5 separate regions of the Homo sapiens genome follow, and regions 1, 2, 3 and 4 are each linked to region 5. The links come from fine-mapping of genetic effects on gene expression. A gene starts in region 5. Each other region holds a variant in brackets. All regions are shown on one strand. Distances are between the middles of the regions.

Evidence for each region. PIP is the estimated chance that this variant, and not a neighbour inherited with it, causes the effect.
Region 1: its variant is the best candidate, but not a certain one, in a credible set for the expression of ATL2 in prefrontal cortex (CommonMind, PIP 0.58).
Region 2: its variant is the best candidate, but not a certain one, in a credible set for the expression of ATL2 in tibial nerve (GTEx, PIP 0.53).
Region 3: its variant is the best candidate, but not a certain one, in a credible set for the expression of ATL2 in whole blood (TOPMed, PIP 0.58).
Region 4: its variant is the best candidate, but not a certain one, in a credible set for the expression of ATL2 in whole blood (INTERVAL, PIP 0.73).

Annotation. Positions count from the first base shown.
Region 1 is chr2:38,293,277-38,297,783 of GRCh38, forward strand. ATL2 (atlastin GTPase 2) reads right to left here. Exons shown (of 13, transcript NM_001135673.4): 13 at 678-2,837. The coding sequence ends at 2,718. Among named protein-coding and RNA genes, the nearest start is that of ATL2, 82 kb to the right of the region's middle. The variant A/T (reference allele first, on the strand shown) is at 1,842.
Region 2 is chr2:38,426,780-38,431,286 of GRCh38, forward strand. No RefSeq gene overlaps it. Among named protein-coding and RNA genes, the nearest start is that of LINC01883, 2.3 kb to the right of the region's middle. The variant C/T (reference allele first, on the strand shown) is at 2,432.
Region 3 is chr2:38,343,853-38,348,359 of GRCh38, forward strand. All of the region lies in intron 1 of ATL2 (atlastin GTPase 2), which reads right to left. Among named protein-coding and RNA genes, the nearest start is that of ATL2, 31 kb to the right of the region's middle. RefSeq lists a silencer at 1,241-1,441. The variant T/C (reference allele first, on the strand shown) is at 2,274.
Region 4 is chr2:38,250,922-38,255,428 of GRCh38, forward strand. No RefSeq gene overlaps it. Among named protein-coding and RNA genes, the nearest start is that of CYP1B1-AS1, 120 kb to the left of the region's middle. The variant G/T (reference allele first, on the strand shown) is at 2,799.
Region 5 is chr2:38,375,331-38,379,837 of GRCh38, forward strand. ATL2 (atlastin GTPase 2) reads right to left here and starts at 1,943. Exons shown (of 13, transcript NM_001135673.4): 1 at 1,813-1,943. The coding sequence starts at 1,930. RefSeq lists enhancers at 1,035-1,536, 1,537-2,036, 1,863-2,112 and silencers at 1,363-1,862, 2,083-2,242, 2,313-2,362.

The DNA of each region.
Region 1 (4,507 bases), 82 kb before region 5:
ACTAACATACGTATGGAGGTGCCTTATTGAGCTATGCAAAGGCTGTGACTTCCCTCCCCTAAGCCCTTTCATGTGTATCTCTAGGCAGTTTGGACCTATTCAGCTGATACATTTGGCTGCAGATTTCACGATCCTAAAAGGATATAAAAGTTGTATTTCACTGAGTACATTAAGGGCAGCTCAATTCCTCGGTCTAACTTCCAGCAAAATGTAAATCTGAAAGACAGGAGTTCCTAGGATCTAAGACTTCAGTAGAGAAGGTAAGGGAGCAATTCTCTGTGCTGCCTGGGAAACCCCCAATCTAGCTTTGACAGGAACCAATAACTGGAAGACTCCCCAAAGTCGCATTCTCTTTATGGCAGAGGCTCCCAACAGAATCCAAGTACAATAGTCATTTGATGAGTAATCTCTGGCCAAGTGAGAAGATGGCTACCAGATGCACAGCAACTCAAGCTAATTTTCATCCTCACTCCACGACTATCACACGAATGGAAAAAACCTGAGATGCGCAGATCCATTCTGGTCAAGTTAGAGGAAAGGAGGGAATCCAGGACATGAATGTTTAGGCTAAAGCTTAAAAGTGTGAAATGGACTTAAATCCTGTAGAGAATTGTCTTCTTTGAGTAAAGCACTCTTTTCTGACAAGAAATGTAAGAAAGCCAATGGTCTAGATTTTATAACTTTTTAAAAGTAAGCTGTCTTTAATTTCAGAAAATCTGCTATTATACAACAAATTATTTTTTCATTCATAAAAAACAGTCCACAGCATTCATAAAACAGGGTGGCAGAAGAAATAAAAAGACACTTTTCAGGTGGATTCTTTAAGAACAGATAAGTTAGCAATTTAATACAGATGAAAACAAATACAATCCATATAAAAACAGAATCTGAATGGGAGTGGGAGCGAAGATGTATCAACCAAAGTAAATTCAGAGTTTTCACACATGCAACTCAACACCTGCATTCTCTTCGCTTAAAAAGCAAACTAAGGGCCGGGCGCGGTGGCTCACGCCTGTAATCCCAACACTTTGGGAGGCCAAGGCAGGCGGATCACAAGGTCAGGCGATTGAGACCATCCTGGCTAAAACGGTGAAACCCCATCTCTACTTAAAATAGAAAACATTAGCCGGGAATGGTGGCACGCACCTGTAGTCCCAGCTACTCAGGAGGCTGAGGCGGGAGAATCACTTGAACCCAGGAGGTGGAGGTTGCAGTGAGCCAAGATCGCACCACTGCACTCCAGCCTGGGTGACAGAGAGAGACTCCGTCTCAAAAAAGAAACAAACAAAACTAGGTACTTTAATCGGTGTTCACAAAGAAGACCACAAAAGTACTGAAAAAATGCTAGCCTTACATATACCACCAAAAAAAAAAAAAGAGAGAGAAAGAAATTAACAATCCCCATCTACAACTAGGCTAATCATAGGTTTTCCCTTATAGAGACAGACACAGAAAAGTAACTTTTTACAAGCTTAGTTTTGAGGTACAATGCCTTAGAGCTCTCAACTGGGGTGTTTCCTGCTCATGCTCTTTTCACTATAAACAAATGTGGTTTATGAAGTGGAATACATACTTGAAAAATTCCTTAAAAAAGAATCACAAGTTTCATTTTATATATACAACAAATTTTTAATTATGTACTGAAAATAAATTACAGGAAATAACTTTAAAATGCAACAGAGGACAAAGTCACAATAAACATTCCCATTGAATTCCCTTGGTGGGCGGGGGGGGGGTGAGATTGCAGTGCTCAAGATAAATATCACAAATATATCAAAAACTTCAAATTGTCTATGCATTCACACACTGACATGAGCCACAAACATTCCTTTCACAGGGAC[A/T]GTACTTATTTAGCCTACCACAGGACCAGATTTTGCCATAAACTACAAAACTTTTAATACAAAATCGTATTTATATATTTATAAGTCATATACATGCCCTATCTGTGATTTTAGAAAATAAAAGCTACACACTGTACAGACACTCTTAACTCATAGCTGTAGGCAACATTTTTGGATGGAATTTCTTCCCCAATAAAATTAATGGCATATTTTATATACATGAAGGCTAAACTGCAAAAAGACAGTTCAGTTTCCCAGATATGCATCTCCTTTTAGGGCAAGTTTATAAATTTAAAAAGGCAAGACAAATGTACACCTCAGAATTACTTTCTTAGCTACAAGAGTTGCCATGTAATTTCTGTGAAGTTTCTGATACATGCATTGATGTAATACTGGTATTGAAGGCAGTAAAGCAATATATACTTTTAATGTAGTGGCTCAATAAAGGCTTCATTGTCTTTCCAATCTGGTTCTTGAAACAGTGATTCATAAATTCTCTAAAAATTAAAATTTCAATGGGACACTGTGTTAAAGAGACTCTAAATAGATTTCTGAAAATATTTCCCTGAAATATCCTTTTACATAAGACAAATTCACTAACATTAGATTAAGTAAAAAGAAATAAAAGAGTTAAACATGGCACAAAGGTGCATGATTAACCAATGCTCCTCAGTCCATCTGCATGTCTTAGGAGCCATTAAAAGAATGCTTAAAACTAACAAACAATCTTCACACTCTGTGGCAGCCATCTGTGAAGCCAGTTACACTAAACTACTTCTACAGTTGATTGTAAACTTTGGTTTATTTTTATTTGAGTTCTCATTGTACAGCAAGCATGAAAAAAAAAGAGAGTGGAGTCCGTGAGGAGATGAACTGTCAGTCTGTCTTTAATCTGGCATGATGAGACACCTGGTCAGTCAGGCCTGCTTTGATAGAGTTTGTTACAGACTGCCTTATGTTTTCCTCCATCAAATTATCACCCAGGGGCTTCAATACCTGTGGTATGAGAAATGTGCAAAACAAACAAAAACATGAGGTAAAAAAAGAGTTACATATAAAAATAGATATAAAAATTCAATTCAAAGCAATGATGAAAATAACCAGGAATATGGGAAATAAAAAGATGCTTCTCTCAAAAAAACTTATGATGCTACTAGACATTTTATAATGCAACAAAAATTACTTTCCTCTTATTCAAACCATTTACAATTCCTATGAGATGGATGTGCAATTCCATACCCTATATGCAGCATCAAATCTGGTATGTATACAGCATTTATGCAGACCGGCCCAGACGGTCCTGCTTATTGTCCTACATGTGTAAGTGTGAACACTTCAGATAGAGAAAAAGGTTAAAAATACTGTCTAATTTTTCTTCTTGTTATTGTTGGATGACAGTCTCTGTCGCTGTGCTGATGAAAGAGCACGGTGAACCATTCGACGTCTAGTAACTTCAAACAGTTTGGAAAACACCTAAAACATGAAGTGATTTGTTAGGAGAATGAATCAGAGTGCCTCGAAGCTAAAGAGTTTAAGACTACAAGAATTTGAGACTGTAGGTTTCTCACCTTCCTGGGACTCCTCTGAAGCAAAAGAAAAGAGAAATGCAAAGAAATTTAGACAAGGTTTGTTGACACAGCACAGATCTCTGACTAGCTGATTACCTTACCTAAACTATACTGAAAATGATTTTATACACTTTAGATTCTTCCATTTAATTGTTTTGTAATAATGGTACCTCCAAAATCCTAGAATCAATGCTGTTTAAGAGATGAATATTTCTCAAAAGAAGATATTGTACAATTATTGAAAATTATATTGCAGAAAATGATCCAAAATTTTAAAATAGCTAATTTTTTCTTAAAAGTGAAGTTGCGATAGCTTTGCATCCATCTTCTATTAGAAGATATCAAAGAAACATCAAGTAGTGAGATTGAGATAAAAATTTAAATAGAATAAATATCCAAACATAAACTTCCCAATCGGATCTGAATAGAGCATTTCTCTAAAGAGTAAACACAAAATCCAAATTAATATAGTGGGTCACTTTATAAAATAACATCATTACAAGAAAAGTCAATATCCAATCAACTTTCTTCAAAAAAAATGGTCTGCTTCTTCGGTCTTCAAGTTTATAGCCAAAACAAACATGGACCTGCATATCCTAGATCTTCAAAATAAGCTCAATATTTCATGAGCCCAAAAATGGCATCTCAAATGCCTATTATAGCGTTCGTCATTAATAACCGTAGCTTTCATTCTGGTCCTTGACATGATGTTCAAGTATTTCACGAAGATCATCTTAATGACATCCATAAGCGGTCCACAGGTAATTCCAGCACACCGGAGGCAGATACACAAAATGGCTTTCCTTAGCAGATACTTGCAGGCAAGAGTTCACAGCCTGGGGCTTTGAATTCTGGTTCGAGGTAAAAGATTACGACGGAGCATGGTTCTCTGTTCATGGCGCTTTGCTTTACTAATTAATATTTCCAAAACACAAAGGTCAAAGTTTCCTTGGTAAGAAATCCCTACGGGATTGTTCCTCATAGTACATCAGGAAATCACTACCATCTTCATGGAAGGCAATGAAGACCTGTCTACCATCCAGCATTTCTCCTGCATTGCTGCTTGCCAATATTAGGAAGAAACTTCTTTTGCTTTCC
Region 2 (4,507 bases), 51 kb after region 5:
AAAATATGGTTTATAAAATGTTCTTGCTGAAAATGCGGGATAAGCTGGAAATAAATCTGCCAGTTTAAGGTATTATTAGGCATAGATAGCCAATTTCCCAAGAATTAACTTCAAATATATTTAACACCATAAAATATTATACAAATATTGCAGCTTTCTTGCATGATTCAGAAGGCAGTTAAGTGAGTGCTCCAGGCTCTTCATGATAAGTATCATTTACCATTACAACATAAATTTGTGCAAATACCAGTTTATAGACAGTTTCATTTGATAGAATGGTACATAAGCCACTTTTAAATAATACTGTATCATTTTGGTATCGGCACCCTGCAGAAAAATCTAATGAGATGATCACCAAGCCAAGCTTTAAGGTTTCAGGAGTTAAATGGATACTTACGGATGTAAAGGTTTGTTTCAGCTCTGTCAGCATAATCACTGTTTACTGGTCCGGAGTGGGTTTGGAAGGGTGGTGGTAAGCATTATGATGTGTCGTCAGTGACTGACATCCAAATCATTGTTTTCAGGCCAGTGCATCAAATATTTGGCCTTGTAAACTTCTTAGTTACAGGGAGGTTGGGCAGCCTTGGGGATTAGTTTCATCCAAAGAGAATTTGAAAGGCTGTCCTTGACTGCAAGCCTGAAAATTCTTCTTTACCACGGTGACATAGAAACTGCATTCGAGGGAAAACATCAGTGCTCCTTCAGACTTTCTAGAAACTATACATTGTGATGGAGGTTACTTCATAAAGAAGTGGCCTGGGAAATGAACGAAAACTAAACACTGAGTCTACTCTAATTTTACCCACCATTAAGAGATGCTAATTTCGTTCCCGGGTGGGACCAAAAAGAAAAGGTGGAAACTATTCTTGGTGCAGACTATGCATTAAAATCTCTAGATTAGCCAGGAATGATGAAACACACCTGTAGTCCCAGCTGCTCGGGAGGCTGAGGTGGGAGGATTTCTTGAGCTCAGGAGTTCAAGACCAGCCTGGGCAACATAGCGAGATCCCCCCCATCTCCAAAAACAAAAAAATCTCTAGAGAAATAAAACTAGTTTGAATAGAGAGAGGAGGCCAGAGAATTGAATGAATGAGAGATTCAAACTGAGAAAGGACTGGAAATGAGACCAAGAAATAAAAAATCATGGTAGAAGGGAAAAAGAAGCTACTGGAGAGACTTTGGAAGAGAAGATTTCCCCTATGCAATGTTGAAGGAAGCTTTGTAAAGCTTTCGCATTTTTGACATCATGTCCCAAAAAAAAAAAGCACTGGCAGTGATCCAGGCGGTAACAGTGATCTGGGAGGTGCTAGAGAGAACCAGAAGTCAAGAGTAGCAGCAGTGACAGAGAGTGCCATTGCACTACTGCTTTGAAGGTACAGTCTGTGCCGGGCCTTACTTCTCCAGTGAGGTCCCTGGAGCAGCAGCCTCACTGGGAGCTGGTTTGACGGGAAGAATCCCAGCCCTTAGAGGCCTACTGAATCCGAATCTGCATTTCAACAGGATCCCCAGGAAACTGGATGCACTTTCGACTGAGCCTTCACCTTTTTTAGGGCTCTTGCAACCCTATCTCCTTCTTCTATTTTTTTTTTTAAATTAAGACAAGGTCTCGCTATGTTGCCCAGGTTGGTCTCAAACTCCTGGGCTCAAGCATTCCTCCCGCCAGGGCCTCCCAAAGTGCTGGAGTTACAGGCATGAGGCACAGTGCCCACCCTCCTTCTTCTATTTTTTCTTTTTCTAGAGACAGAGTTTCCCTCTGTTGCCCAGGCTGGAGTGCAATGGCGTGATCTTGTCTCACTGCAACCTCCGCCTGCTGGGTTCAAGCGACTCTCCTGCCTCAGCTTCCTGAGTAGCTGGGATTACAGGCGCCCGCCACCACGTCACGCTAATTTTTATATTTTTAATGGAGACGGGGGTTTCACCATGTTGGTCAGGCTGGTCTCAAACTCCTGACCTCAAGTAATTCACCCACCTTGGCCTCCCAAAGTGCTGGGATTACAGGCGTGAGCCACACTGCCCGGCCACCAGTTTTTCTTCTTTTCCCCTTCCCTTTTCATCATCTTCTTCCTCAAATTCCAAAAAATGGTCACGTGTGACAATCAATATGGTGGGTGTTTACATCTCTTCCTGGTCCTAATTCAAAGCCCAAGCTAGCCTCAATTCATAAACACGTGAACAAAACAGTTGCGCTGGGCCCCAGAAAGCCATCAGGCAAGATGAACCCTCCCCCATAACATCTATATTTGTGTCACTTATTTATACAGAGGCTTAAGTATACACAGTGCTCTGTAGGGGAACATGCCAAGAAAAGAATACAATCCCTGCTCTTTACAAAATATTTTTCTTTTTCTCTCATAACCCTAGGGAATAGCCAGGGTGGGGATGGAATTACGAAATCTTTGAACCAAAATATATAAAATGAATAGAAGGAAGC[C/T]GTAGGTATTTTTTAGAGCCTCCAGACCTCTAAGAAAACAAGACTTTCCCAAACAATATGCATGAGCAGATTTTCGCTTCATGTGAAAACAAGCTCAGTTATCTGAAGGAAACTCAAACACACACACACACACACACACACACACACACACACACACACCAGAAAAGACATTTTAAAGGCATTTTGTCAAAGATATTTATAAAAGTGCATTTTAAAAGGCTGGAGTGAAGTGGTGCGATCTCGGCTCACTGCAACCTCTGCCTTCTGGGTTCAAGCGATTCTCCTGCCTCAGCCTCCAGAGTAGCTGGGATTATAGGCATGTGTCATCATGCCCCACTAATTTTTGTATTTTTAGTAGAGATGAGGTTTTGCCATGTTGCCCAGGCTGGTCTCAAACTCCTGGCCTCAAGCGATCTGCACGCCTCGGCCTCCCAAAGTGCTGGGATTATAGGCGTGAGCCACCACGTCTGGCCTGGAATAATTTTAAATTTATAAAAAAGTTGCAGAGATAGCTCAATGAGCTCCCATATAGTTGCCCCCCAGCCTCTCCTAATGTTAACATCTTATTCAACCAGGGTACATTTGTCTAAACTAAGAAATCAGTGTCGTTAGCTGGGTACAGTGGCTCATGCCTATCATCCCAGCACTTTGGGAGGCCGAGGTGGGTGGATCACCTGAGGTCAGGAGTTCCAGACCAGCCAGGCCAACATGTTGAAACCCCGTCTCTACTAAAAATACACAAATTAGCTGGATGTGGTGGCGGGCACCTGTAATCCCAGCTACTCAGGAGGCTGAGGCAGGAGAATCACTAGGACCCGGGAGGCAGAGGTTGCAGTGAGCCAAGATCATACCATTGCACTCCAGCCTGGGGGACAAAGCGAGACTCCGTCTCAAAAAAAAAGAGAAAGAAAAAGTAATCAATATTGTTACAATACTATTAACTACAGACTCTTATTCGGACGGCACCAGTTTTTCCACTAATGTTCTTTAGTCCAGGATTCCATGTTGCATTGAACATTAATACATTTCAGTAAAACAATACAGTGAAGTCACAGGATAACACATGATAATTGATTATCAGATGCAGATGGTGAAAAGAGCTTTGCCTCAGGTCAGGAGGGCCTAACACTCATCTCAGCAGTGAAGGGACGCAAGTCGCGCCCGCAGGGGTGTGAGGTTGTTTCACACAGCGTTGGGGCAGGCATTCCAGCTCTCAGTAAGAACTAATATGGTTCAATGTACGCTAACTCCCCCAAGGAATCTGCAGTTCACATTAGGCAAAGGGTATAAAGCTCTAATTATGAACTCCGCAGCCAGAGTGGACCATGAAGTTGAACATTTCCACAAAGAAGAGGAGAGACTTACTTTCCCATGCTCTGAAGTCACACTTCCTGCCCTGTACTCTAGGAGCGATGCGAAGCCTCAGGACTCAAGCTTATTTCTGAAGCAAGGTCTCAAGTCAAAAAAAAGAAAAAGAAACATTTAGACTTGCCCCTTCTGAGGAGTCGCTATTCTGTGCCTCTCTAGGGGCCACCTTTGCTCAGAGGCTCCGTTAGGCTGGTGAAGCAGGGGGCTACAGTGGGAGGGAGAAAGGCTGAACATTCCTCAGCGTCGGCGTCGGCGTCCATGGGGGGCTCTGAGCGATGGCCTTCTCCGCTTGCAAGGTCATTGGTCTTTGAGCCGGACTCGCTGCCTAAGGCAGGCTAAGACTGGCATATTAGCATTCCATCTACATTTAACTTGGAATAAATTCTAGATTTAGCCCTGCAGCTAGGATGGAATTTTTCCCCTTCCGCTGCCCTCCCGCTTCCTGCCTTAGAGCTGGGTCTGGGGTGAGGCAGATGAGGGGCTAACAGCGTAACATGCAGAGAGGCTCTTGCACCACCGTGAGAGTGAGCGCATGTCTCCTACAATTTTTCCACTCTAGGTCCTTTGCTTGTCACACAGCGTGGTTACCTCTTCCTCACCTGCAGCTTCAGCCCCACTGTGTTGTCATAATGACTTAGCACCTACAAAATGAAAAGAGGGCCAAAAAAACCCCCCAAAACGTCTAGCTTCCCCCTCAGTTAAGTGTTC
Region 3 (4,507 bases), 31 kb before region 5:
GAAATTTGATGATTTTATAAGAGGTTTCCCTGCACAAGCTCTCTTCTCATCTGCCACCATGTGAGATGTGCCTTTCACCTTCCGCCATGATTGTGAGACCTCCCCAGCCACGTGAAACTTTGATTCCATTAAACCTCTTTCTTTTGTAAATTGCCCAGTCTCAAGTATGTCTTTATTACCAGCATGAAAATGGACTCATACACCATTATACATACAGATAAACAATAATACTAAATATGGCCTCTATCTCAATGAAGTCTTAACTTCATTGAGAATGTTCATGTCAACAGCACCTGTTTCTGAGCCCTGTATTATTCTGTAAATAACTTTTCCAACTGTATGCACACATAAACTAAAGAGGGGAAAAATCAATTTCACCTGATACTTCAAATCCCAATTTTCCCTGTAAGCATCACCTAGAAAATTCACAAACATTACTCTACTTTACAAACATTAAAAACATATATTAAAATTGTTCATGTGGCTGGGTGCAGTGGGTGTAATCCCAACACTTTGGGAGGCCGAGGCAGGCAGATCACCTGAGGTCAGGAGTTCAAGACCAGCCTGACCAACATGGGGAAACCCCGTCTCTACTAAAAATACAAAAATTAGCTGGGCATGGTAGCGGGCGCCTGTAGTCCCAGCTACTTGGGAGGCTGAGACAGGAGAATCGCTTGAACCTGGGAGGCAGAGGTTGCAGTGAGCTGAGATTGCACCACTGCATTCCAGCCTGGGCAACAGAGTGAGTCTCAGTCTCAAAAAACAAACAAAAAAAAATTATTCATGTTATTTTTCATTCTGAAACTTAAAGGGGAAAATTAGGGTTCTAACAAGTTTCCAAAAATGATACTTACAATGAGTCCCTAATTTAATAACAGTAACCTAGTACTACTACAGCCTCCTCATTAAAGCAAAGCACAGGATTAATGTTTCATTAAAGAAGAGTCAGTGAGATGCATTTATATCTCAGAATTTCATCTCCCACTGGAGCTCTTTCTCACCAAACACTACAGCTGTTATAGCTCCCGAAAACAGCCATATAAACCCTTCCTTTGTTCACCACAACACATTAAAATAAGGTAACCTTTGCAGACATAACTTTACTGAATAGTGACGAAGAAGTACAGAGAATGTAAATAGCAGAGATAAACTTCCAAAGTCTAGGTTTCTGTTCTTCTTTAAAAAAAACACCTAGCTTCAGAGGACACATACCTTGTCTGACTTTCTTCTCTACCAACTGCTTGATCCCACGTAGCAACTAGTTACTCCTGGGGACCTTATCTTCTCCCACATCAAAATTTCTAAGAGATCCCCTCCTTGAGCCTGTCTACTAAGTGTCAGTTTCCACTCTAAGGACACATACGGTATCCACTGTTTTCAATGCAATCAATGACTGTCCTACTCTGAGGAGAAAGCCAGTCCACTAAGGCGTGGTACATTATTAGTGAACAGTTCAGTAATACCTTATCCACATAACCAATATTCACAGAGCAAAGATTATATAACTACATTAGTGGATTTTTAATCTTATTACCAAAAGAAGCATCTCACTTATCTGATTTGCAAAGACTATTAGAGCCTCTACCTCCACATCACGAGGCACCTTTAACTGTATATAGCAAAGTCAACAGCACTATTTCAAAATGTGCTGAAAACAATGACAATGCATTATAAAGAGCAAGCCACTTCAAAGGAGAATCTTTGAAAGTAAAAGCAATCAATATTTAGTTAAAGGGGACATTATCACTGCCTGTATCAATGGTATATAGCAATAGTCAGGTATGCTATTTGAATGCATGCAAAAAGTGAACTTTCCAGGAAAAGTTGCAATACAGTTAAATTCTAAATTAACGTCTCATTAGGTAGGTCCAGATAAATAACAAAACAGGATGCAAACGGTATAAGTTTCTAAGCTTAATTAGTGGTTTAAGACCATGAAGTAGGGAGCAAACTGCCTCGATGCATGTCACTTAACTTCTCTGCACCTGTTTTCTCATCTGGAAAATGGGTGTGTGTCAAACAGGCATAGCATTACCTAACTCATAGGGTTGTCATCAGGATTCAATGAGTTGAAATATGTATGCTACGCAGTAAGCACCATAGGTGTAAGTTAACAGTAATTTCAAAATAACCAATCCAACAGGAGAAGCTTTTATTTTCCCCTTGAAATGCCAAAATGCTATGGTGATTTTCACTTGACCAGTGTAGCTGCGTACTGACACTGCCATCCACCCATCTGCTCTGGCACAGACTTGCTGGCTGTCCTTGACATA[T/C]AGAGATACGTCTACGTGTCTTTTACTTACCCCTAAATCTAATCAATAACCACCTTCTTAATTTGTCTTCATTTCTGAATCTCTATTGATAATATTCCTGCACTTGTCACTGCCACAGTACCTCACACTGTAGCATCTAACTGGTTTCCCTTCATTAATACTCTTGTCCTCTTACCCAATCCAATCTAATCTCCACAGAGTAGCAACTAAATAATATAGTTACATGTAAAGTTGACCAGGTTACCCTCCTTAAAATCACTGTTACAGAGGACTAATGACTAAAATCCTACACATGCTCTATAAGGTCCCGTACTCACCGCCAATCTCTGTTGCCTCTTTTGGTGCTATTCTTCTCTTTAAACCAGCGGTCCCCAACCTTCTTGGTACCAGGGTCTGGTTTCATGAAAGACAAGTTTTCCACAGAAGGGGGAGCAGTGGTTTCAGGATAAAACTGTTCCATCTCAGATCATCAGGCATTAGTTAGATTCTCATAAGGAGCACACAACCCAGATCCCTCACACGTGCAGTTCACAATAAGGTTCGCGCTCCTATGAGAATCTGATGTCACCATGGGTCTGACAGGAGGCGAAGCTCAGGCAGTAATGCTCGCTCGCCTGCTACTCCCCTCTTGCTGTGCGGCCCAGTTCCTAACAGGCCACGGACGAGTACCAGTCCACGGCCCTAGGGTTGGGAACCCCAGGTTTAAACTAGGTAGCCAAACTAACCTTTCATCAGATCCTCATGCTGCTAAGCTCTTTCTAGACTCTGCTTTAATATTCCTCTGCCTAGAGTACTCTTTCCTTTGTTGTTTCCTAATAAATTCACACTTACTCCTTAAATCTCAGCTTAAAAGACACTTTCCAGGAACAAGAATCTTCCCTGAGGCTTCCAACCAAGTTTAGTCATTCTATACTCCCCAAATTTTAATCTATCACTTGAATATTTATGTAAGTACTTATTTATTAAATGTCTCCCCTCTTGGATTGCCAATTTACCACTTAGTTTCCCATCATAAGCAGAAAATAGACAAACAAAAGAAGAAAGCCCTTAAATACCTTACCATGGCTTCTATAGTCGTATGCGATCTGGGCCCAGCCTCCTCTCCATAGCAGAGGGCCTTATAAAGCACATGTCATCTTACAACACACTCCTATTCATTCCCAAAGCCTGGACAATCTGGCCTTCTTGCTGTTCCCTGATGAAGCTAACCCTGTTTCCCACCTTAGAATTTTTGTCCTGTGTTGTCCCCTATCTGGAATGCTCTGTCCCTAGAAATTCACATGGCTTATGTCTCCATCATCCAGCTCTTCAGCTCAAATGTTATCTCCTCAGCATGGCCCTCCCTGACCACTCAATCTAAATCACAGATCCCTTTCCTTAACACTTTAATGAAACAGGTTTATTCATAGTTTTTTTCAATTCCTAAAACAACCTTTTTTCATTCGTTTAAATGTGTACCTGATATCTCCCACTCCACAGAATGAGTGTGCCACTAAAGTAAGGATCCCAATCACCCTGTTAACCATTCTCTACCAGCACCTACAACAGTGCCTGACACCTAGCCTAGCAGGTTCCTTGTAAATATTTCCTGAATGAATGAAATTTAAGCATTTTACTCAGGAGTCTTACATCTGCCCTTACCTTTTTTTTTTTTTTTTTTTTAAGGCAGAGCGCTCTGTCACCCAGGCTGGAGTGCAGTGGTGAGATCTCGACTCACTGCAACCTCTGCCTCCTGGGTTCAAGCCATTCTCCTGTCTCAGCCTCCAGAGTAGCTGGAACAACAGATGCCCAATGCCTCGCCAAGCTAATTTTTGTATTTTTAGTAGAGACAAGGTTTCCCCATGTTGGCCAGGCTGGACTCAAACTCCTGACCTCAGGTGATCCACCCATCTCAGCCTCCCAAAGTACTAGGATTACAGGCATGAGCCACTATGCCTGGCCCTGCCCTTACCTAGTTTATAAGCAAATATGATAATCAAATAGCTTGGGGAAATACCTCCGACAACTCAAGAGTATTAAGTATACGTAACACAAAAATTCCATAAAAATTATGAAGCTTGGCTAGGCGCGGTGGCTCACGCCTGTAATCCCAACAATTTGGGAGGCTGAGGAGGGCGGATCACCTAAAGTCAGGAGTTTAAGGCCAGCCTGACCAACATGGAGAAACCCCATCTCTACTAAAAATACAAAATTAGCCAGGAGTGGTGTTGCTTGCCTGTAATCCCAGATACTCA
Region 4 (4,507 bases), 120 kb before region 5:
TGGTACATTCTGAACCATGCAGAAGCTGCCTGCCTGGTATGACAATGGAATGACCTTTTTAAAGTGCAAAAGATGTACAAGCTTGGAGATGCTCCCTGGGCAACTGGAGTGGCATTCTCCAGGACTCAGCATGTGCCCTAAATCCATAGCCATTATATGGTGCTGTGTTTGCAAAAGATAGAATACATGGTTATGGAAATGAAAGGGAGGAAGGAGCCCCAATTATAATCATCTCCAGTGACCTACTTAGAGAATTCGTGTTTTCCATCCTCCAACTCTAGGCTCTGTATACCTAGAGGTCCCAGTTCCCAGGAGGGCAACATCTCCACCAAAGGTGACAGCAAGAGTCGAACTTTAAACTACAAATAGCCTGTCACGCTAGCCTCCTTATGTTAAGAGATGACCAGGAAGGAAAGGAGGTGTAATTCTCACAAGGGTAGTCGACTCTTACCATGAAGAGATAGGCTACTTTCACACAGTGAGGACAGAGAAGAATGTGTTTGACATGCAAGTGATCCACTGGGTGGCTCTTGGTACCTTCTTTTCCAATTTTAATAATAAATGGGCAAGTGCAACAGCCACAGCCTGAAGAGGGCATGGTGACCTGGAGTTTGGAGCTCTCAAGAGTGAGAGTCTGGGTCACCTCACCAGATAAGCCACCTAGATGAGGAAAGGAGCAGACCAAGGCTGAGGGGCATCTACAATGGGTGGTAGAAAAAGGAGACAATGAGCACCTCTGCAGGTGTGAGACCAGCCACAGCTTCAGGGCATGTTGTTTGTCCTTTTAACCCTCTTATCATAATTTTCCCCAAAAAAAGAGATTAAACAGGTTCCTGGATGAACTTTCCCAGATGGAGCAGACTTACTATGCAGAGCAAACGGATCCAAAAAACCAAAAGATAGACTCTAGTGGATGATGTGGTAGACCATTCAGATGTCCCTGTCAGGACCAAGACACTCATTCCATCATCTTCCAGGAATGTCAGCTGCTGATGGCTTATAGGAATTGTGTTGGCCAAGGGGGTCCCCTACCCAGGATTTGTGCTAGGCCAAAGGTTATGTTCTTTCCCCACTGGAGTTCACATATAATGATTGTTGGCTGCAAAGGTATGAAGGCATGGCCCCTTTGATTCAGTTCAGGACATGTTTAAAGGGTCATCCCAGCTGCAAAGCTCCCTGCAGATTGGCTGAGACCTCTGTTACTACTGCATCATAGTTCACTTCCTCTTCCTGCCCAGCCTTGGGTGCCTCAAGGCTCATAGCTGTTGCTCCTCAAAAAGTACCTGAGTGCAAATGTCTGTCTCAGAGGGCAATTCCTAGGGAAACCAATCTAGGAATCCTAACGTTTTCAGAAAAAAAAAAAAAAAAAAAAATCACATGATCATCATAAAATATTTCACTTTTTAAGCCTTATCTGTCTTGTACACAGTTAAATACACCATAGTTTCTGAAAGGCTGAAAAACAGTGCCTAGGAATATCACTTTTGGGAAATAGACTTGAATTCTTTAATTTACATAAGCAACACATGCACAGGGTTTGTGAAAATCTATTCAGATTTGTATGTATTATATTGAGTTCTGTGGTCACGTGCCTCATCCAATATTTGGCTTGTAATAAATTCTCAGAATGATAGCTAATGCCATTTTCATCATTGTCTACATCACCATCACTTGGCATCTTTTTTGCTTGCCTCGTTACCTGATCCTCATCACCTTCTCTACTCTCCTGCTGCCACACAGCATTCAACTGGGCATTCTGCTCCCACTCCAGCTATCCCAAGGGTCAGATCTGTCCTCCTACCCCATGGCTCATGGTTCGCCTCAATCCCACTTTACCCTGCAAATAAGATGAGGCATTATGCCTTGCTGAGATGACACAATTGCCTCCGTTAGTACCACAAAATATAAACCCCCCCAAAAAGCTTAACATGATTTTAAAAAACAAAATCCAAGTAAGCAATGATTTGCCAAGAGGAATGTGAAGTTTCAAATTTATTTAGTTTCCACAACTCTTTGTAAATCTCATTTGTAAACTTTCAAAAAATATATAGTCATCCCTTGGTATGCAGAGGATGGTTCCATGAACCCCATGTATACCAAAATCTGAGTCTTGCAGCCTGGCCCAGCAGAATTCACATATAAGAAAAATTGGCCCTCTGGATAGGTGGGTTTCACTACCCAAGAATACTGTATTTTCCATCCACATTTGGTTTAGAAAAACCCAAGTATAAGTGGACTCTTGCAGTTCAAACCCATGTTGTTCAAGGGTCAACTCTACTTTATTACTTTATTGCAGGTTTTGTGGGGTTTTTTTTGTTTTGGGTTTTTTTGTTTTTTTTTTTTGAGGCAGAGTCTTGCTCTGTTGCCCAGGCTGGAGTGAAGTGGTGTAGTCTCGGCCCACTGCAACCTCCGCCTCCCAGGTTCAAGCGATTCTCCTGCCTCAGCCTCCCGAGTAGCTGGGATTACAGGCGCCTGCCACCATACCTGGCTAATTTTAGTATTTTCAGTAGAGACAGGGTTTCACCATGTTGGCCAGGCTGTTCTGGAACTCCTGACCTCAGGTGATCCACCTGCCTTGGCCTCCCAAAGTGCTGGAATTACAGGCATGAGCCACTGCTCCCAGCCTATTGCAGTTTCTTAAAAGGCAATTCATTTTAAGATAGAGCTATAGTTAATAATATGGAAATATCTTTAATACATATTAATTGGAAAAGCAGATTGGAGAACAATATGTTTAGTATAATTCCATTATGTATATCTTTTACATTGTTTACATCTGTCATACCCATATTTATTTT[G/T]GTTCATTTGCTCTTTCAGAGACCTACATATATACGTTAAAATGGCCTAATATTAAAATGCTTTTTCCCATTTCTCCTTATTTTTTTGCTTGAAAATGTTGATATTATTTTCAACATTTGGCATTTAGCCATTTTTTTAGTCAGTCTTCCTGAATTTTTAAATTTTAGTTACTCTCTTATATATGTCATAAAATTGGGTTTTGTCTTGTGATATATCTAAAAGTCTTTTTGTTTAATTGATAAAAGCAATGTGTCTCATTTTTATGTTTTTGTTTTTATTGCCTTTGTAAATATTTTATTATATAGAATCTGCTGTATTTGTGTTGTATGTTTCTTCTCATAATTAAAAACATGTGTGTTTTTATCCTAGAGGCTACTTTTATAATTCAGACTTCATCAGATACCCTATAACTCTATATTCGTAAGATCTATCAGTTCCCTCCTGTGATCAGTAAAAATAATGACACAGGATTTTCATCTTTGTCACTTTGCAAGCCGGGGACCTCTAGCCAGTGACACCCTGCCTGGGCCTTGCTTAACCACACTACCTGCTGCAGGAGATAGCCCTCCCACTTGGCCTGCCTGGGGCCAGCCCCGACTTGCGCACTTCTTGAGTTCTCCAGTTCTTGTCCTGTGCCAAGAAGAATGAGGATGTGCTGACAATCAGAGTGAGCAAGGTGGGGAGTTTTATTGAGTGATGAAACAGCTTTCAATGGAGAGGGGACATGGCGGCGGGGGGGGGGGTCTCCCTACCTGAAGGCGAGAGAGTCCCCTCAATGTGGCTGAGTCCGGGGCTTTTATGGGTTCAGAATGGGGGAGGGGCAGGCCATAGGTAATATTGGAAAAGGCAACATTTGATTGGTTAAAAGGCATTGTTCAGAAAGAATCAATCGGGAAAGGGAGAGCAAACAAGAACAGAAGTTCTCACTCTGGGTTGTGGGTTTCATCCTGGACCAGCAGCAGTCCAGTCTTTCAGCCCTCAGGCTGTTTTTGGCTTGAAGGTTGGGTTTCACTGGGGACCCACCCTTGTCTGCCTAGGCATTTGGCTGCCTCCTGTTGCTGCTATCAATAATCATTCTATTTCCTCCCTTTCTCTACTCCTGATCACTCTTTTATTAGTGTTTTTTTTGTTTGTTTGTTTGTTTTGTTTCTTGGTTTTTTTTTCAGACAGGGTCTCCTTATGTCACCCAGGTTGGAGTACAGTGGCACAGTCACGGCTCACTGCAGCTTCCACCTCCCAGACCCAAGCGATCCTCCCACCTCAGGCTTCCGGAAAGCTGGGGCTAGAGGCACATACCACTACGCCTGACTAGTTTTTGTATTTTTTGTAGAGACAGGGTTTCGCCATGTTGCCCAGGCTGGTCTGGAACTCCTAGGCTCAAGCAGTCTGCCTGCCTCAGCCTCCCAAAGTTTTGGGATTACACATGTGAACCACTACACCTGACACTCTTTTAGTGTTTACCTTAGAATTGTTACATACACTTTTACTACTTAATTTGTCAGTTTTAAATAGCATCCTTTATCCCAGGGGGTCAACAAATTTATTTTGTAAAAGATTAAATAGTAAATATTTTAGGCTTTGTGATTCAATCTTTATCACGACAACTTAACTGCCGTTATAGCATGAAAGCAGCCATAAACAATCTGTAACAAATGAACATGGCTGTGTTCCAATAAAACTTTATTTATACAAAAACAGGTGGTGGGCT
Region 5 (4,507 bases):
AATTAGCAGGTACAGGGACTGTTTTAGGCAATCATTTGCTAGGAATGGCTATCAAGTGAAGGTCTTGCTGATCCGTCCTAAAAAACAAAGGACAAAAACCTATGAGTAGCAGACAAAAGCATTTATTAAATAATAAATGGTGGGCCCTATTTCAACAACAATCTGAAGAGTATCATCTCTTCTCAAGATACCACAGCACAACAACGTTCACAACCATAACTGAAGTATAAATTTATGTTTCTTCTAATAAGGTAAATACATAGAATATTTTGAAACTGCATCTAAAACTCTTACCTCAAAAAAAGGAAAGAAAGAAAGAGAAAGAAAGAAAAGAACACACACTTCTTCCCCTAGGGTCCAACCAAAAGAGCGAAATTAATCCATCCGCATTCCAAAACAATTAATTACTTAAGAAATCCAACCAGCACACATCTAAGGCGAAGCTGCTTCTTTGGTAGTTTTTTATTCTACAGAGTGCTACCACTGTACAAACAGTCAAGCGTTTTGGTTGGCAGACAATAATAAAATAAGCTTTATTTCCTTTTCTTCTTCCCTTAGCAAAACTCCAGTCTGTCATCACCTCTGACATGCGCCAAGAACTACCAGGAATGATGAAGTATATTTCAAATAAACTTTCCTATTAAAGTGAGTCCTTGTGGTTAACATCATACCAAAATGCTTTACATTTTATCCAGCAAAACCTTTACACACCGTAAAAAAAGAAATCTTAAGACACGAGCTCGTATCTGTATTTAATAATAAACTCTTATCTTGGCCGTACTTACCAAATCGTAGGCTTTTACTATTTATAAGCCTTTGAAAAAACTTTATGCCTTTCTTAAGTACCATCAAAATTTTCAATCAGGATTTCATGCGATCAATTCGCACCACAGTGAGAGATCAAACGCTAAACTCCTATAAATAGGGGTGTTATGAGTGAGAGGGATACACTGCGCTGCCAACGCAACTGCGTCTTCGAGGGGGCAGGGGCGCTCCTGGTACACGTACAGTAGGAGCTCACATTCAGCAAAACCAGGGAGCCAAGGATCAGGTGACTTCACACTACAGACACTTTCAGAGTGATCAGGCCTTACTATCGTCCAAGTGACTCGTAAACGGCTCATAACCCCAGTTTGACACGAAAATCTAGACTTGCACCCTAGCCACGCACAACCCGCGCGAATGGGTTCGGGAGCCGAGGAGCCCCGAAACGCGAGCCCGGGGACAGAGCCCTGGCCTGCGGACTGCGGTTCCCTCCAGGAAGGGTGTCTAAGGAGCTTTCGGACCCGGCAGCAAGGTGTCTGCTCCCCGCGCGACCTCCTCCTCCGCGGGGCCCATCATGCCCTGGCCACCCCTTCCTCCCTGTCCGCGTAAGGGACAGCGAACGCCCACCAGCTAACGGGTCGCCCCGCCGCGTCCGGAGCTCGCCGGACGGAGCGGAGCCGCAGCCGACCTCCCCGCGCCCCGGGCAGGCGGCCACGGCTCAAGGCCGCCCCCTAAGGTCGGGGCGGACACGGCGGCAGCCACGCGGCGGGCTGGCGGGCAGGGGGCCGGGCCGGTCGCAGACGCGCGCGCCACTGGTTCTCCCAGCAGCTACTGGAGCCGCGGCCCACGAGCCGCCCTTTCAGGCCGCGCGCTGCGGGAGCGCGGGGCGCGGCTGAGGCTAGGCCCGGCGGGCAGGCGCGGCGGCGGGAGGAGACCTGAACCAGCCGCGGACTCCGACCCCGCCGCCTGCGGCCGGTGCCCGCGAGCCCGAGCAGCGAGCGTCTCTCCCCATCAGGGCCCCGCGGCCTCTGCCTCGCTGGCCCGTACCTAGGGAGGTCGTGGACGAGACGTGGTTAACCGCGGCGCTTGGGTCGCTGGTCCGTCGCCGGCGCCACAGCCCCTGGTGCGGTTGCTGCCCTCGCGCTGCCTCGTCCCCCTCCGCCATCTTGTACCGATTTAAAATTAACTCCCCACTGACGTCAAACGCCGCCGCCGCTTTATCAACCTCCCGGGAGCCGGCGGGGTGGCCGGCGGGTCCTAGCGCCGCTCTCCGCCTGTATCTCCTCGCCCTCCGCCTGTATCTCCTCGCCCTCCGCCTGTATCTCCTCGCCCTCCCTCCGCCCCCGCCCCGCCCATCGCTCGCTCGCTCCGCCCTCGCCCTGCCCGCCTGCAGATCCGTCTCCCCGGCTCCAAGTTTCTGGTTGGACTGGGGCGGGGGTGTCCCTGCCGCCGCCGTCTCACACCCCCACCTCCCTGAGCTCAGCACCACACCCCCTTAGCGCTGGGCCAGGCTCTGCAAACGCAGAAGGGAGCTCCAGAGAACTAAGTCCCTCCCTCCCAATTCGCTTTACATCTCTAATCGTTGATTCGTGCGTCCTGCACGTGAGGTGGCTTTCGCACCCCTTCTCTCCTTTTCATCGCCCCCTCCTCATCACAGCCATTCCCCTCCTCTCTCCCCATCCACCCCCCAAGTTGTTGCCAGTGCCCTGCTTTTCCTCTTGATCTTTTCTTTCCTCACCCAAGTCCCTACTGTTGCTTCCCCTCCCCCCCACCATCCTAAGGTTTGTTTGCATTCGCTCCCCATCTACTTATGAGACCTTCCCCCATCTTCTCAACTGTGTATACCCTGGCCCTGTGCTCCTAGCACCTTGCAGAGGCATGCCAGAAAGCACTCTAATCGGAAAATGAATCGTGGCAGGTTCTTACCTAATTGTGATGAACCTTCTTCTGGGGATCCAGTGACATCCAGTAGAAAGTTCAGGTCACTTTTTAAATTACAAGTCAGCCCGTGGAGGCGTCTGTGAAACATGATCCCTTTGGATTTTTACCATACTGCCAGCTGCATTAGAAATTCCTCTTCTCCAGTAAAAACAGATGTCCGGGTGTACAAACAGCTGTTTTGTCCAGGTCTTTTCATAAGTCTAAAATTCACAGCATGCACAATCTCTAGAAAAGCACTGGTGTTATTAAAGCTTTCAAAATACCATTCTAGGTAGGGCATGGTGGCTCACGCCTCCCGGGTTCAAGCAATTCTCTGCCTCAGCCTCCGGAGTAGCTGGGATTACAGTCCCCCGCCACCACACCCTGCTAATTTTTGTATTTTTATAGACACGGGATTTCACCATCTTGGCCAGGCTGGTCTTGAGCTACTGACCTCGTGATCCACCCGCCTCAGCCTCCCAAAGTGCTGGGATTACAGGCGTGAGCCACTGCGCCCGGCCCATCCAAATATATTTCAACAGAATATGGAGTTTGTCATCATTGTCACATAAATCTAGGAGAATAACTATATACGTGTTCTTGGCAATATTCTTTGAGTTACTAAGATTCTAGTTCTGGGACTTGAACCACCTCCACAATCTAAAGTACAGTTACCCTTCCCCCTCGTTCATATTGATGGCAGGATCTTTATCAACTTGTTAAGTGATATTCCTCTTACGTCCTTGTGATATATGATTTGGAGAGCTCACTTTGTCAAGACATTTTCTGTTTTATCATTGGCCTGAAAAACGTAGTATTGAAAAGGAAGAAAAAGAAGAAGCAGAAGCAGAAGAAGGAGGAGGAGGAGGAGAAGAAGGGCAAAAAAATCTTCACGAGGATTGTTCTACAAAGATTTATTTACTGTCATTTACTCACTAAAAAACATTTGCTTAGGCACATAGAAAAAAGAAACCATTTACAAACAGCACAGCATAGGCCATTTGCTAAATTAAGGTTGATACAGTCAGTGACAACAAAAAGCTACCTGAATCCTTACCAAAGTGCAGTGTTCACCTAAGCCAAATCACCCTCTATGCTTAGTATAGGCAGTCCTTTGGAAGATATTGAATATCTTACATGTAATAAAAGACCTTATGGTTTCCCTCACTGTGCCTTCGATTTTAAGGACTTCAATTCTATCTACTAATCTAGGCTGCTACCCCATGTGTTTCGTGTTTTGCTTTGCTTTTCTCTTTTCTTTTCTTTTTTTTTTCCTTGCCTATGTTCTTCTCTTTTTGGTGTTCTGCCTATCTTGGCTCCCAAACCCACTCTCTCCCCCATCTGTGGTTACTATGCCTGAATCAAGAGAGGTCAAACGCTTATTTAAAAAAAAAAAAAAAAGGCTGGGTGTGGTGGCTCATGCCTGTAATCCCAGCACTTTGGGAGGCCGAGGTGGGGCGATCACCTGAGGTCAGCAGTTCAAGACTAGCCTGGCCAACATGGTGAAACCCCATCTCCACAAAAATACCAAAATTAACTTGGCATGATGGCGGGTGCCTGTAATCCCAGCTACTCGGGAGGCTGAGGTGGGAGAATCACTTGAACCTGGGAGGTGGAGGTTGCCGTGAGCTGAGATCGTGCCATTGCACTCCAGCCTGGATGACAGCGTGAGACTCCATCTCAAAAAAAAAAAAAAATAGGCTGACCCTGGGTACACTGCCTGTGAGTTAGCCCTACTCCGCAAGGAGCAATACCATTCAAAAAAGACTGCTGCTTAACACCACCAGCTCAAAAAAAAAAAGAATTAATTAATTAATTTTTT